Regions from separate parts of the Homo sapiens genome. Here region 1 is reported to be linked to region 2. The links are microRNA targets in miRTarBase. Many come from high-throughput screens and were not tested one by one. Region 2 holds a microRNA gene; the other region holds the end of a gene's coding sequence.

Region 1 (7,816 bases), not on the chromosome of region 2:
GGTTGGAGTTGGTACCTCATCTGCATAATCTCAATGACATTTCTCAGTATACCTCTACAACAACTAAAGTGCCATCAACTGACATCACTTTCAGACCTACGAGAAAAAATTCTGTACCTGTCACGTCAGCCTTTCCCACTGCCAAGCAGGATGATCCCAAACAACAACCAAGTCCATTTTCAGTGGATCAAAGGGACTACTCAACAGAGCTGAGTGTCACTATTGCAGTTGGAGCATCACTGCTGTTTCTGAACATCTTGGCCTTTGCAGCCCTGTACTACAAAAAGGATAAGAGGAGACATGATGTTCACAGGAGATGCAGCCCTCAGCGCACTACTACCAATGATCTAACCCATGCACAAGAAGAGGAAATCATGTCCCTCCAAATGAAGCACACTGATTTGGATCATGAATGTGAGTCCATTCATCCACATGAGGTGGTTCTTCGGACCGCCTGTCCCCCAGATTACACACTAGCTATGAGGAGGTCACCTGATGATGTTCCCTTAATGACACCCAACACCATTACAATGATTCCCAACACTATACCAGGGATTCAGCCCTTACACACATTCAATACATTTACTGGAGGACAGAACAATACTCTGCCCCATCCCCATCCCCACCCCCATTCACATTCAACAACCAGGGTATAGCCAGATAAGAGAAACAAACTATTTTTTTTGATGGATTGCAGTAAACGATCACTGAAGATTCCTTGGCTTTCAACCTACAAGACTTACTATTTAAATAAGGAGGAATATTATGTGAATATACATATCAAGAACTTTGGGGGTTTTGAAAAAAATGAATTGTATATATACAAATCAACTTTAAAAACAAATTTCAATTGCTTGAAGCAATTGTTCTGAATGATACTTTTTCATTCACATTCAAGAATTAATTTTTTGAAGATTTAAGTTACATAATGGAATTAGGCATGTGGAACACCAAACAGGAAAGAACTATGTCTGAAATATAAAAAATAAAAATAAAAAAACAACTATGAATATGCACAAGGGACACACCAGTGGAATGTCAGATAATTTTCACCAGTTTTTATTTGGAGCCGTTTTATTGTGTAGACCATATTTACATATTTGGATAAGTACACAAAGCGTCAATGCTGTTAATGGCCTTAGCAAAGGCTCATGCTGAAATTTGCCAGTAAAACAAAGAAGTTTAAAGACTGGCAGGTACACCATTATCACATAAGTGCTGTCAGTATAAAGTTGTGGGGATAAAGGAAACTGGATATTTTTAGCACGATGTGCATGATAATTTATATGCTTGGTGGCTGTGCTGCTGATTAAGCCGTAATTAAAATTCTTCTCATCCCATTGGAGTTTTTAATAGAAGCTTCCTCCATCAATTGGCAGAACCTAAAGAAGATTTTAAGGGGCAAAAGTAATTACAATAAAATAATTCACAGTAGTTTCAATATAGAAGGAATTAGCTATTAAAGGTATTTGAAGAAACTATAGGTATAGTGGTGAATACTCGCTGATATGAATCCCAGAAAAAAATTTCCTGTTTTTAATGTTCTTTTCAATCCCATCTAGATAATTTATAGAAATATAACCCTAATTGGACATGTGGTACAGGATCTATAAGTTGCTGTGTTTTTTTGTTACTCTGTATTTTGTTCCTTTTGGTAAGGTGAAGTGTGTCCAAAGAGTTACTTGCAACAGTCTTTCATGATATGAGGATGCCCCCGTATTACCACTCTGATTATAGTTCTGAGTTCTTTGATTTACTCATGCTGCATGACAAAATGTTTACTAATAACAATTCATTATAAAGTTATATCCCTCTTTACATCACTTATCTTTCTCACTGAGGTTCATTCACTGGAATTTACTCACGCAATCTCAGTAGAGTACAACGTAGATACAGAACCTAGGAGAGTCAACATCTGGAGGATTTTAGTCTTTCTTACACATATGTGTGATTTTAAACGAATATTCTCAGACCACAGGAAACTCTTCATCCCCCTGTTGTTTACCAGTAACAGTATATCACAGACCTTTCCAAATGTTTGTATATGTAATCAGATGTACATTTATATTGAAAAACAAATGAGATGGACTTAAAGAGCACATCCTGATAAATACTTTCTCTCTCACCTGTACTATATTTCTATTAGACTAAAGTTATGTGATTTTTTTTTTACATTTTTTCAGATGACTAGCAATTTTGATAGTTTATAAGATAATGCAAAGAACTTTCTCTGACAAACTAACTGCAGTAACAGAAACCTTTCTTTTCAGTTACTCTTTTTCAAGAATGAAAGATTATTATACAAAAAATTGTATACTACTTGATGGAACCAACTTTGTACATCTTGGCCATGTCACTGGTCATTGTGTGAAATAAAGATAATCTGGATAATGACTATTAGTCCAATGCTAAGAAACATGATCTTTGCTCATTAAAGAGCTAAAATGTTTATTGCTGTTTTGTCTTTCTTTTTTCTAAAAAAAGAAAAAAAAGAAAAAAAGGAAAAGAAGAACAAAGAAACATGACTGTCTCAAAGAGTAATTTTTCTAGATTAGACCAGTCAGGTTTTTGAAGACATATAGGTAACTTCCACAGAAAACACAAACATGTATTTAAAGGCAAGTCTCATCTAAGATGAAACTCATAAAAATTATTTAATGTTTGTTATGAATTTAAAAGCTCCAGAAATCCATGAAAAAAAGAAAGATTAGCTTTGTGTTGTTAAATATCTCTTAGGTACAGATGTTGTAGAAATAAAGTGCCAATTGTTTTCAGTTAGTTAGAAAAACAAGTTCCAATTCTAGTCATCAAGGAAAAGGTCTATTGAAAAGAAATTTGCAATATTTCATGGAATACAAATAACTAGGTTCATAAAATGGGGGTGATTAAACTACCATAAAGTAATGAATAGAAAGTTGCCATGCTAAGAGAATGTAAAAGTGCTGAGCAAGATATTAAACTGACACTAAAAGATAAAAATCTATTTCAAGGAATTTATGTGATTATAATCCCCCCTCCCAATTATTATCTATCAAAGAAATGTAGGTATTCCTCCATAATTAAAAAAAAGTCTCTGTTAGAAGCAAAAGTCTTCAAAATCCAGAGTGATCTACATACAGCTTTTGACTGAGGTGGTTATGCTTTTCAACTGTGAACTGCCAGTGTACACAAATACAAATAATTGTTTAGCATCTGAAGTATTGTTCAATTGGAACACTGTATTTTACTGTATTAATTAAACAAAACACAAGAACAGAATAGAAATGACAACAAAATAAGATATGAATGAATACTTTCATATGCATTGCTTCATTTGGCAAAACCAAACATTCTATTAAATAGTATGTTTTAACGATGGCCATATTTATATCATCTACCTACCAATCTATTGCTCTGCATTTATCAATCTGCCTATATATAGCATAACTGTCACCCTCTTTATATTAATTTAGGAAAATGATTGAGGAAAACAAAGCATAGCCCTATTAATTATTTTCTCTAAATTAGGGTAGAATAACTTTATGGAAGATAAAGCAGCCTAGGTTTAATTGTTGTTCACCAGTCACGTGATAAAGTCATTGTGAATGAGTGTTAGTTGCTAGTTTTATAATTGCAGTCTCTAGTTTCTGAATGAAAAAGGATGCCCCACATTATACAGAACATTAAGAACTGTTTTTAAAGCTGAAACATAATCTTTATATGCAAGAAAAATAAATACTGTTACTCAATTTTAGCAAATATGTTTAAAATGTATTTATTTAGATAATTTTCTTTGAAAAACAATGTAAGTAACAAAATTAAAATAATATTTTTGGCATTATTTGTTAATTCAGATTTTCCTGCCTCCGATTAAAAATTAGGCAAAGCTGCTTATAATTTATACAAAGATTACACTAAAATGAACTTTATTTCATTGTTTTGCTGTTATATAAAATTTTTACCAAATGTTTACCAAGAGATTAATGTTTTAGAGTATGAGGATAGAAAAATAAAAGTGACAGATTTCATAGTTTTAAATCTCTACTGAACATGTTGACTATGAACAAAATCTAATTGGCTACCACAGATATATAACAAAGTTTATTACTAACTTTATGCAAATTGGAAAATAATTTGCTAAAGCATTAAAAATGTCAGATTTGTAGACGTCTTGCTGGCAACTCAAAGCAGAAAATCTGAGTATATATTATTTTATTCCTCATTTCAAATATAAAAGTTGACCAAAGTGATGCTTTATTTCCGACTTCCTGATCTGTATGTGAAAACAGCAACATTTTTTTAAAAATTATCAAGTATATATAATATTAAAAAGAGGAAAACAGATGGCACTAATTTTCTTACAGGAGTGAAGTGCTGAAACTAAATTGTTACATCTGTAACAACAGTTATTTCACCTCTTGCCACACTCATCCTGACATACGTATTAATATCAAAAAATGATACAAAGAATATGAGAAATGTGTTCCAGCATTAAAGACACTACTACATAGAAATTACTGGGATTCTTTTCTTTGGCGAGTTTCACTGAAATAGTTTCACAGGATGAAATGATGAATTGAATTCTTAAGAAGCTGTCAAATATGGCAGTCTTTTGATGTTAGTAATTTTGTTTTCTTCTGTGTTATTGGTTCAAAGTACTGGCCTTTTCCTTCATTTCCAGTAATTAGTTGTTATAGACTATCACTTTTTAATGTGAGTGGAAATTAGATGATTTGGTTATACTTGTGAAAACATGCTTCCAAATAAATTCAATTAATGGGCACTTCCCTGCTGAGATTTTGTTATCATTCATTTGATTATCTTGTCAAGCTTTACTGTTACGACAAATGTTTTAGCTTTCTGGTCAATAGACTAAGGGAATTTCTCCAGTAGCCTTATACCTCTCCTGCACTTGATCTGATAGCAACATACACTTCAAATTTCCATCAGAAGTCTCTAAAGAAATTTCCTACTGCTATGAAACATTTGGTGGCCAACTTGATTCTTTTTCATAAGCATTCTGATTTGATTTTATTCTGGCACGTTGCTGTATTTGGATGCAGGCCAGAAATCAATTCCATTTGATAAGGGTTGTGGAGAATACAGACTGGAATAACCGTGTGCAGGGCTTAAGTGCCTTTTCCTCCTGAGATTTTATTTATAAAACTTAGCTTTTTTAAATTTTCAGATTCAGATAATTCAATTTAAAGAGTACAATAGGATGACTATATTATAAATTACCAATAAAGAAAGTTTATTTGGACATTTTTACATTTAATTTGATTTTTAAAATAATATCAGATGCATCTAAATGGCTTCCGGGAAAGACTGAGGTAAATTTTTGAAAGTGACAATTATATAGGCATCTGACTTGATGGTACTTAAGAATAAAAATTTAAATCTCTAGCAAACTTTAAAAATTGTCCAAATAGTAAGTTTAATTTGAAAGAAGTCTGAAGCTATTAGAGAAAATCATGTACTAGATAGGTATATATTTTTTTCTAGTCAGCTATTACGTACACCACATAATATATATACCCTATATACTATATGGTTTATATAACATTTATAATGGCCCTTTCAGACCCATATACTTACAAATGACATTGTATAACTACCTACATATGTATTAATGTGACAGAATTTAGTCCTTTATGGAAAGTCAAACCAAATTGCTAGCAGTTTTGAGTTGAAATGAATGATAACAATTAAAGCTTTTAAGAAATTGGTAAAGGTACCGTAACAAAAACTCAGCAGATAAATTTAAAAGAGAGGGACCATTTTTGAATGCCATTTTCAGAGTTGACATCTAAACTAGATGGTGTGTTTAAAAGGATTTTAGTGGTTTTGATTCATCCTTTCTCTGCATTCATATCATTTAGCAAATTAATGGGACATATGTCATGGTTTTTGTAAAAAAGACCATTGGGTTGTCATGATTCAGTTTGTGTTTGGACATCTATGGCTTTCATTAAAAACGTGTTTATTATCATGAATAAATATTACCATGTTTTCCAAGTTGTGTTGACTATTTTTAAACTCAGAAATAATTTCTTCTCTATTTGTCTCACACAAAAAGGTTACTAAGATAAGTGTTTTCTTACAAAGTCTTTGTATTGCTTCCACACTGCTGACAGTTCTGACTTGATAGAAACAATGACATTTTATGATCTTTTCACCTCTTGGTGAATGCAGGGCAAGAATTTAGAGAATAGATTTGGGGAGCTGGACACAACTTTTCAGAAAAGAGAGAGGAAAGTGGGAGAAGGAAAAAGAAAAGAATGGAAAAAGGAGGAAGTGAGAGAGAACAAAAAGGAAGAAAAACTTCTCAATTTTAAATTAATGACTTTTTGCATCCAAATAGTGCTTTAAATAGAGATGTGTGACAGTTTTTTAAAAAGAAGGGCAAAGGAATTTAAATAAATCCCTTTAAATCATAAATCTATTATTCTTAGAGAACAAAATTAATAATATCTAGGAAGATATCTTAAATTTAATTCTTGATCCAAGTCTTGATCAAATCATGTCACTGGAAACAATTAAAAATAAAATCTATACTGAAATATTTATGGTTTTGTACTATCTAATCAATAATGATATTGGTAGGAAGACTATGGGAAGTAAGATAATCTCTCATCTGTATATAGCCCAAGATAAGAATACAGCAAAGAGGACATCATATAATTTCCTCATACATAGCCTAAAGATAAATGTTTCCAATGGCTGAATAAAAGAATTAGCATTGCTTTACAAGTCTCTGTGGTCACATATGGCCATGGGCACCTAATAAATTAAACAGTTAAAAAACATATTCTAACAATTTCACTTTCCATAAAAGGGTTTTGATGTTTTGTAAAATTTGGTGTTGTTTGATATGATTACTTTTTCACTAGTTTTGTATTTCCTTATGGTTTGTAGGATGTTATTTCTGAGTTCAAAAAAAGTTTCAAATATACTCGTGAATGTTCATGTGAAAGCAGTATTTTCTAATGGAATGCTATAATTTGAAGTACTGTCTCAATTTTGGAGAGTTGATTGACTATCTAGTTAAAACTTTTCTATCTCCCCTGAAAATACTCAACTTTGCTCTCAGAGCTGCCTTCCTCTGCACTACAGGGGATCTTCTTACCAGTCACTGTGGCTCCTGTTTCCATGGCCTATCCTATTACTAGTTATGACCTCTTCTCCAAGGGGGTAAAGTTGTGCTGAAAGTCTTAAAAGGTGATCTAACCAACTGGTGCCTTGGGAATTGGCTTCCTCTGCTCCTCAGGCAGGTTAGAAGCTAGTGAACATCAATCAAGCAATGAAAGAAATTAGTCATTTCTTCTTTCAACAAATGTTGTCTACTATGGGTTAGGCAACATAATGGGTGTTAAACACGTGGCCAATTCTATGACTTACTAACATACAACTATTGTCAAGTTTGGAATAGGTCCAAACACATGGACTGATTTAGACCACTTTCTATGCTATACTCTGTAGCAAATCACTGTACAATTCCTTGTTTTGTCTATTTCACATGTCTCAAAATAGTAAATACAAATCAATATTTCTTGAGTTCAAAAAAAATTAGTGAATTCTATTGAGCCAGTTCACCAGTTAAGGTATGTAGCAGACATCTTTCCAAATAATAAATACAGCCTATCTGAAGTCATGCTATAGTATGCCAATTCAAATTTCATGGAATATGAAATTTCCAGCATAAATCTCATCTGATCCAGCCCCATAAGTGGTTCCTTAATCCTTTGCCACAACCTCAACATGTAATTGTGAAGCCTATCATTGAACACTGCCATGGGTCTGAATTCTAAAACAGCTGGCTGCATTTTGGACTATT
Region 2 (7,922 bases):
CTGGTTGGATTAAGCAATTGGAATCTATTGTCTCACTGTTGTGGAGGTTATAAGTCTGAGATCTAGGCATGAGTGGGGTTGGTACCTTTCAGTCATATGAAATAGAATATGTTTGATGCCTCTCCCCTAGATTCTGGTTGTTTGCCATCAATCTCTTTTGTTCCTTGGATTGTGGACAGCTCTCTCCAGTCTCTTCCTTCATGTTCACATGACATTGTGTGTTTGTGTGTTTGTGTGTGGGGGGGTGCGTGTGTGTAAATTTCCCCTTTTTATAAGGATGCTAGTCATATTGCATTAGGGGCATATTCTCATCCAGTATGAGCTCATCTTAATTTAACTAATTATACCTGTAATAATCTTATTTCCAAATAAAGTCACATTCTAAGGTACTGGTGGTTAGAACCTTAATATATGAATGAGGAGAGTAAGATGCAAACAGTAATGCTCAGGCAAGCAAACAATGTTTATTTAATGATGATTTGGACTTTTGGAAATCCAATTCTGTCTCCTATTTTTTTGTTGTTTTGAAGTGAACATATTATTAGAAGACTCAAAATCAGTAATCCCATTCAAAACAAAAAGAAGGGTTTCACAGTGACAGTGAGGCCCAATGACACTGGGTGCTCAGTCCTGGAATAATGATTTTAAAGTCAATAAAAATTTGATTTTCAGATTTATTTTTGTCTAGAAAGAGCACATTTATTGACTGGTTAAAACTCAGAATGTAGAGGTAAAAGAAAGGACATTTAATTGTGCAAATCAAAGTTTGTGTCTTTTATTTAAAAATTATATATAGCCTATAAGGATTTTCTGGCATGTTCAAAATTAATATCCTTTCATATTTATATTGATTGTATTTTTTTTCCTAAAATTTTCCTTTAAAATGGTTGATTGAAGTTTCTTTGACTATTGATTTTTTACATTGTTTTCTCAGGAGACATATGTCTTAGTTTTTTATTTCGTATCATAATTTTTGCCCTTTCTTGGAATCTAACTTTTTTCTCCCATTATCAGCTGAAATACAGCAATATCAAAAGACTGCTGTTTTAGGAAGGGAAGTTATTCCGATTTAAATAATTAATGTGACAGTATCTGAGGAATTAGAGTTGGAATCCAGAGTAATCAATAAGAGAATCCTCTTTTTCTCCATAGCTGGGGAAGCAAAGGCTAAATAACATAAGGAATGTGCCTGAGTGAAGACAGCCTCGGTTCTGGAATTGGGCACAAACTCTGGCTACTATAAGTTTCCAAAGGTCAATGTCATTCTTCCCCTGGGAATGTCTTCCCAGTGAGTTATTTCAAATAGCATGGGCCTGCTCCTTCTCACACAGGTGCAGCATCATCATCCCCAGCAGGTAACACTTACGTGGCACTAAGTATTGCCCAGATAGGATGAGGAGTGGAAACTTAATTCTGGATTTGGAACTGGAAGACTTTCAGATCTGTCATACACGACAGCGGGCAAGTCACTGAACTTCTAAGCCTTAAGTGACTCCGACTCTAAGATGGAAATTATAATTTACCTCCAAATGTTGTGGGCATAAAACATGGAATCCAAAGTGAAAGATGTAACAAAAAATGATAGTTACCGTATACTAACCACAAGGTATCAGGCACTCTGCAAACTCTTCATGTGTCCATTATCCCATACAATTTTCACAGCAACCATGCAGTACAGGTATTTATTATTCCCTCACACCCCCTTTTCTAGAAGACAAAACATAAGATTGGTACTTTTCCTAAGATCGCAACAGCTTTTGAACAACAGAGCAAGGTTATGACCTAAGAGCCATGCTGTTTCCTCATCTACCACATCATTAAACAGCTTGAACTGGGCCATTCAGCCAAAAGAAACCCAGTCATAGAAACTTGGAGCAAGTCGTTTCATGGAATAGAAACTCTTTTAATCTCTTCAGAGTAAACTTCAGTTAAATATGAAAAGTTTATATCAACTGCTGCTTTTTTTTTTTTTAAACAACTAAGATAATAAACCGGGCTTAGAAAGTCTCCTTCTAAAGGAACTGGCACCATACCAACTAAAAGGGCCCATACTCTTTTCTCATAAAAATGTATTTTTTGCTTCTAAATAGAAGGCATGAAAAGTGGGTTTAAATTTCCTTTTTAATGTTGAGAAAAACTATTTGTAAAGATGATTTTTTTTATTATACTTTAAGTTTTAGGGTACATGTGCACAACATGCAGGTTTGTTACATATGTATACATGTGCCATGTTGGTGTGCTGCACCCATTAACTCGTCATTTAGCATTAGGTATATCTCCTAATGCTATCCCTCCCCCTTCCCACCACCCCACAACAGGCCCCGGTGTGTGATGTTCCCCTTCCTGTGTCCATGTGTTCTCGTTGTTCAATTCCCACCTATGAGTGAGAATATGCGGTGTTTGGTTTTTTGTCCTTGCGATAGTTTGCTGAGAATGATGGTTTCCAGCTTCATCCATGTCCCTGCAAAGGACGTGAACTCATCATTTTTTATGGCTGCATAGTATTCCATGGTGTATATGTGCCACATTTTCTTAATCCTTTAAAACATTTCAATCCTTATTTTGTCCTGAACAGGCCAGTAATTTTTTTTTAAAGGTATAGCTAAATCTCCCTCAAGAGCAGAAATGATTACAATTAGAATCTTTTAGGTTTGCATTATTATTCTTATTATTCTTAAACCAAAATTTCGAAGCTGCCAAGATGTATGTATGTGTATGTGTGGGATGGTAGGAAGGGGATAAAATGGTTAATTTTTTATATAAAGCAAAAATGACCTTTTTGGATGACATTTCCTGCTGTCCATATGTATTATACTTCTAAATTTTCTCATTTAAATATTTTGTTCTCTTATCTAGGCTACAACCCAGAAAAAATATACTATTTATTCAGTTTTATGTGTGAATTTTCCATTTGGAGTATACTTCGCCAATTCCTGTCCAGAGTTGTATGATTTTGATTATTTGAATACTATAAAATAACACACAACAATTTTGTGCTAAAATGTAACACTAACCTGACACCTCCCCAATAGATCCATCTGCTGAGATGGTTTGGTGACCAATTAATATTTTTTTCTTAAGTAATTATGACAGCAGTACCCATGAAGAGACATTCATTATTGGAATAGCAACATTTATTCTAAACTAAATTATCAATGTAGAAATTATGCTTCAAATATAGCAAATGCATTTATTTACATTTTTAAAATCATCCCTTGCTAATGGTAGAAAAGATGTTAGGGCTTTTCATCTATCCACCTGTACTTTTCAACAATTTTCTGAAGATGTGATAAAGTAATTTCAATAAACCTTTTTAATATATTCCACCTTTTATTGGATATCACCGTCAGCACTCACAATTTGTTAATTGTGTCATTTGAGGTAGGAACAATGAAAGCAAAATGGTAGTTTAACAGAACGGTGCATTAAATTGTCAAATAAAGATTTATGACTAAGACCCCAGATTTAACCCTGGGTAGCTATACTCACTTTTCCTATTTGACGCAACATCATACTCCTGTTTTTTGTGGTTCCCCATTTAATTCATGTTTCTTTAAAATAGTAATAACATGTGAGAGCTTTTCTCTTAGTGTTCTTTATATTAATAAACTCAAAAATATTTTCTGACAATAAGCATTAATTTTCCCACATCATTATGCACAAGCTTTAATATTAATAATGTTTATTTGTAGGTGCAGTTAACTACAATCTATCTGTGTTTATAATTCTATGATATTGATATATGGTTTTCATGTTAATAATTTTAGTGGAATTATCTTTCCAGAAATCAGCCCCGTAGGAATTGACTAGAGAGAGGCTTAGGAAAAAGGAGTTAGGGGGTTGGGTAACTGGAGAGTCAGTGTTTCCTGCCCAGGCAAGAACAAAAGGCATCTCTTTTTTCTTGTGCAAGAAGTGGGAGTTAGAATAGATCTTGACATTGACAAAAGTCCTTAAGAACATGCCAAGGATTTACCACTTCTCTAACCCTCACAAGATCAATCACTTGGTAATTGCTGTGATAACAACTCAGCAATTACCAAGTGATTGGTTTTGTGAGAATGCTTGTTCAGCTCTTCTAGCCATTCCTCACAGGCTTGTCAGACCCCGGGCCCTTCTGCATGAATGACATGCTTAATGCTGTAGTGCCTCCAAGTAGCTACCAGACAGACTATCCTATAGATGGCAGAGCAAAGATTTTCAGGCTGAATTCAGTTGCTTTAATCACACAGTTGATTTGCTGAACTTAAAACTTACAACCAGAATGAATGGGAAAGAGATGTAGATAATTACACATCTCTAAACTGTATCAGGGATCAAATATGATTATGAACCAGATACATACAATTTGTGCTTTTTCCTTTTCAAAGATCCCTATGTACAATGTAACATGTTCTGCATTTCCATTATTCTGCCACTGCATGGTCTTTTAATTTTTTTTCTAGCTTGTTAAGGAATTTTCATGATAGAGATCACAGTTGCTCCACAGTAATCAAAATCAGACAATGAGTTGTCCTGATGGTTTCTTTATATGTTACCTGAGTTCTTCTACCACAGCCTTCTGTGCCATTTTATATTTTCTCCTCACCATTTATGAAATTCTAAAAACCTAATATTCGTGAAAGAGATCAAGCATTCCTGTTTCAGGCATCCTGTGAAAATTGAAACTTCTGTGTGTATTTACATATATTTATATCTATGGTTACAGCTTTTTTTTTTTCCATCTGCATAGCAGTTTCCTTTCCAGTCATCCCTAAAGGATGTATATTTAGCTGATGTGACATACTTAGTCTACCTCTGTGTGCACATAGATGCTTGATGGGAAGTGTCTGAGACAACTCTTGAAACTTCACCCTATAATGTATATTTTAACTACACAAATTGAATATCAAAATTATTAGATGAGTAAAATTCAATTGACACTCTCAGACTCTGAGGTCAGCTTAACAGACATGGATGGGGAACGTCAGTGAGGTTATAGACACATGTTTTTGCCACTATTGCTGTTCTGTCCTTGTATAAGAATGAGGATGAGTAGACACCTCTATTTGCTGGCCATGGTAGCAAGTCAGAGTACACCAACATCGGCAAAATTTCTCCAATAGATCTAGAGTATTTTGGTAGACATATGTCAATATTTCCATTAAACTGTAAATGATCTACATGCATCTGGCCAAATAAAATGCTTGAAATTTTGATGTTGGAAAGTTGTGGGGGACTGACGATGTATATCTTTCTTCTTCTTGAGTGGTGGAGGATGGTGGAAGGTAATTTGAGATTGTTTTCCTCCTGAAAGTGCCTTTTACAGCAATTAAATGGCTTTGAGAGATCATGGGTTTGGAAATAATTAAAATGATGATCACTTTAAGGCAGTTTTTAAACTGTGTTTAACTTAATGCTTCAGAGTATCTCCAAGCCACCTGAAACTTATAGAAAATTTTGTGCATTTTTTTTTTACGAAAGAGGAGACTTCGCTTTTATTCCTTTCTCAACAGATCGATGATCTGGCAAATAGTTGCCCTAGGATGCCCATTAGGTTGAACATGAAGGACAGGTTTTTATGGACTACTACTAATTTATTTATATATGTTCCTCTTCCAAAAGTTCATTTAATAAAAGCAGTTTTTTTTTTTATCATTGCAATCATCTTTTGCAGTTTAGGGGAGAAACAATAGGAAAGGAATCAGTTATCTTTTAGGGGTAATTAGCAGTTAGGACAGCATCTACCAGGAGGAGGAGAGTACCTGTGTAAGTCAGGATTCATTTGGAAAGTACCTCAACTGCAGCTCCCTATGGAGTCAAGGGGGATGTCAGTGGCCAGTCAGCTGGCCAACCGGGTCTTGACCCCAGGTGAGATGAAGTGGAGGAAAGCACATGTTCCAGCTGTATCTTCTGTGCAAATAGACTTCAAGACAAGTTAGCATGGCTGGCCAGAGCCACCTTACTTTGGGCATTGGCATTCACATTCCAGTGTCATTTCTATGCAGTTCCACTCATAGCTTCCCAGAGTTAAAGCTTAACAGAACTTGAGCACTGTAATTTCAGAGATCCTTCTGATTGCTGCACTTGTACAAGGATGGTGCAGCAGCCATGACAACAATCCAGTTGCTAGGTAGGATGTGGTAGCCGCACTGATAGTCCACATGCATGCCAGTTAAGCTGGCCTTTGGGCTGGAGACCATCTAAAGTGAGACCCAGAGAGGTTAAATGGCTTGCCCAAGATCAACAAGATAAATGCTGGAACCGTGGGAAGGAAAGGCCAGATTTCCTAGTTCCTAATCTAGTTTCATGTTTCTTATATGGCTCACTGTTTCGGTCAGATATTTGCTTTTACCCTGTTTTGCACTTTACTGGCCTTATTTGAGAAGGTTTTCCATTTTCATGTCCCATACTGCATTTTACCTCTTTTTAATTTCTCCCTCAAACCTGCCTTTAGAGTTATACCCCAATTTGATCCCTCTAGGGGAAAAATGTTCCACTTTCATCCACTGTCAAGTACTTGCCCTTCTAAAAAAGAAGCAAATTGTTTGGAGGTTTTGCCTCAGTGTTTAGCAAAGTATCTGGCCTAGAGTAAGCGTTGGATGAAACCTGTTGTTTGACAGTTGTTAAACAATTGTGATTTAATGCAGCCTGGTTCCAATTGGAAGAATAAGTCATCTGAGTGGTTAGTGGCTTTAAGTACGATTGAGGAAAAGTCCTGAGAAGAACAAAGACCACTAAAATATAAAGGTGACCTTGGGTGCTTCATTTTGCTTATCCGGATTGTGTTATTTAATAAAGGAGTCAATATCAACACTATTTTCCTGCAAGGTTGTTTTAAGGATTATATGCGTATGAATGGACATGACAGATTAAAAGAGCAATGTAAGACATTAATTATTTCTTTTTATGATCAGCACTAATGCTATTTGCTAGAATGCAAAGATAAATATGGTCCTGACCCTGTCATTCATAAGCTCATATTTTTCTCTTTATCCATTCGTCCGTCTGGTAAATTCGTATTTTTTAGTCCAGTGATTCTCTTGGCACAAATGTCTGAGATATTTTTGTTGTCACTGCTGGAGGTTTGCTACTGACACTTGCTGGTACTGCATATTCTACAATACGCAAAGCCCTCTGCAACAAAGAATTGTGCAGCCCCAACTATCCATAGTTTTGAGAGTGAAACAGCCTGCCTTTTGAATAAAATCATCTGAATAAAATTGACTCACTCACTAAAAACATGAGTTCTCTGTTTTTTATATTCTCCTAAAATATACACAGACATGTGTTGGCACATCACTAATATTAGAGAGATTATGTTCCATTTAACTGCAAATCTGCAAGGGCAGGTGTTTGTCTTTTTTTTACCTTTGTGCTTACATGGCATTCACACATATTGGACACAGCATTCACTTGTTTATTCATTCATTCTAGACATTTTTGGCTTTGAGCATCTACTATATGCCAGGCCCTGTTCTAGGTTCTGAGGATATATTACTGAATAAAAAAGACATGTTGGAAATTACATTCCAACAGGTGGAAGTACTTACTGTGACAGGTGCCTCTTAGAGTTAATATTAAATACAAGAATAGACAAGGTCACTGAGGAACAATGATTACGACCTTCTCAATTCACTGAGCTAGACTGCAGTGTCTCAGAAGTGAGAAACAGCTGAGTAGATTGTACTAATTTATTGATAATGATATGAATTTGTGTACATTTCACAGGTTAGTGTCATGCATGAAAGTGCCTGTTTTACTAAGTGATACCATATTTGTATAAGCATTCCTTGTCAGCTGCCATGCAGATGCAGACTGCCTCATTACCATGTTTTATGCCACATAGGAGTTCCTATCATGTGCTAGGTAGTAGGTGAACCAGAACTCAGATGTGAAAATTGATTCAGTCTTTTACAAAAGAATTTAGGCATAAGGAAATGACT

The links. The annotated mature microRNA hsa-miR-4705 reads UCAAUCACUUGGUAAUUGCUGU and lies in region 2 at 3,996-4,017, shown strand. An mRNA with a match to its seed (bases 2 to 7 or 8) in the 3' UTR can be bound and repressed. Matches are read on the target gene's strand: a 7mer-m8 pairs with bases 2 to 8, a 7mer-A1 pairs with bases 2 to 7 and ends in A, and an 8mer does both.
Region 1: the mRNA of NLGN1 is a reported target of hsa-miR-4705. Seed matches in the 3' UTR shown: 7mer-A1 at 3,458-3,464 and 7mer-A1 at 7,012-7,018.

What each region holds. Positions count from the first base shown.
Region 1 is chr3:174,280,648-174,288,463 of GRCh38, forward strand. NLGN1 (neuroligin 1) reads left to right here. Exons shown (of 7, transcript NM_001365925.2): 7 at 1-7,816. The coding sequence ends at 656. Among named protein-coding and RNA genes, the nearest start is that of NLGN1-AS1, 360 kb to the left of the region's middle.
Region 2 is chr13:102,042,069-102,049,990 of GRCh38, reverse strand. It overlaps MIR4705 (microRNA 4705), which reads left to right and starts at 3,987; the gene lies at 3,987-4,057. It also overlaps a transcript of FGF14 not described here.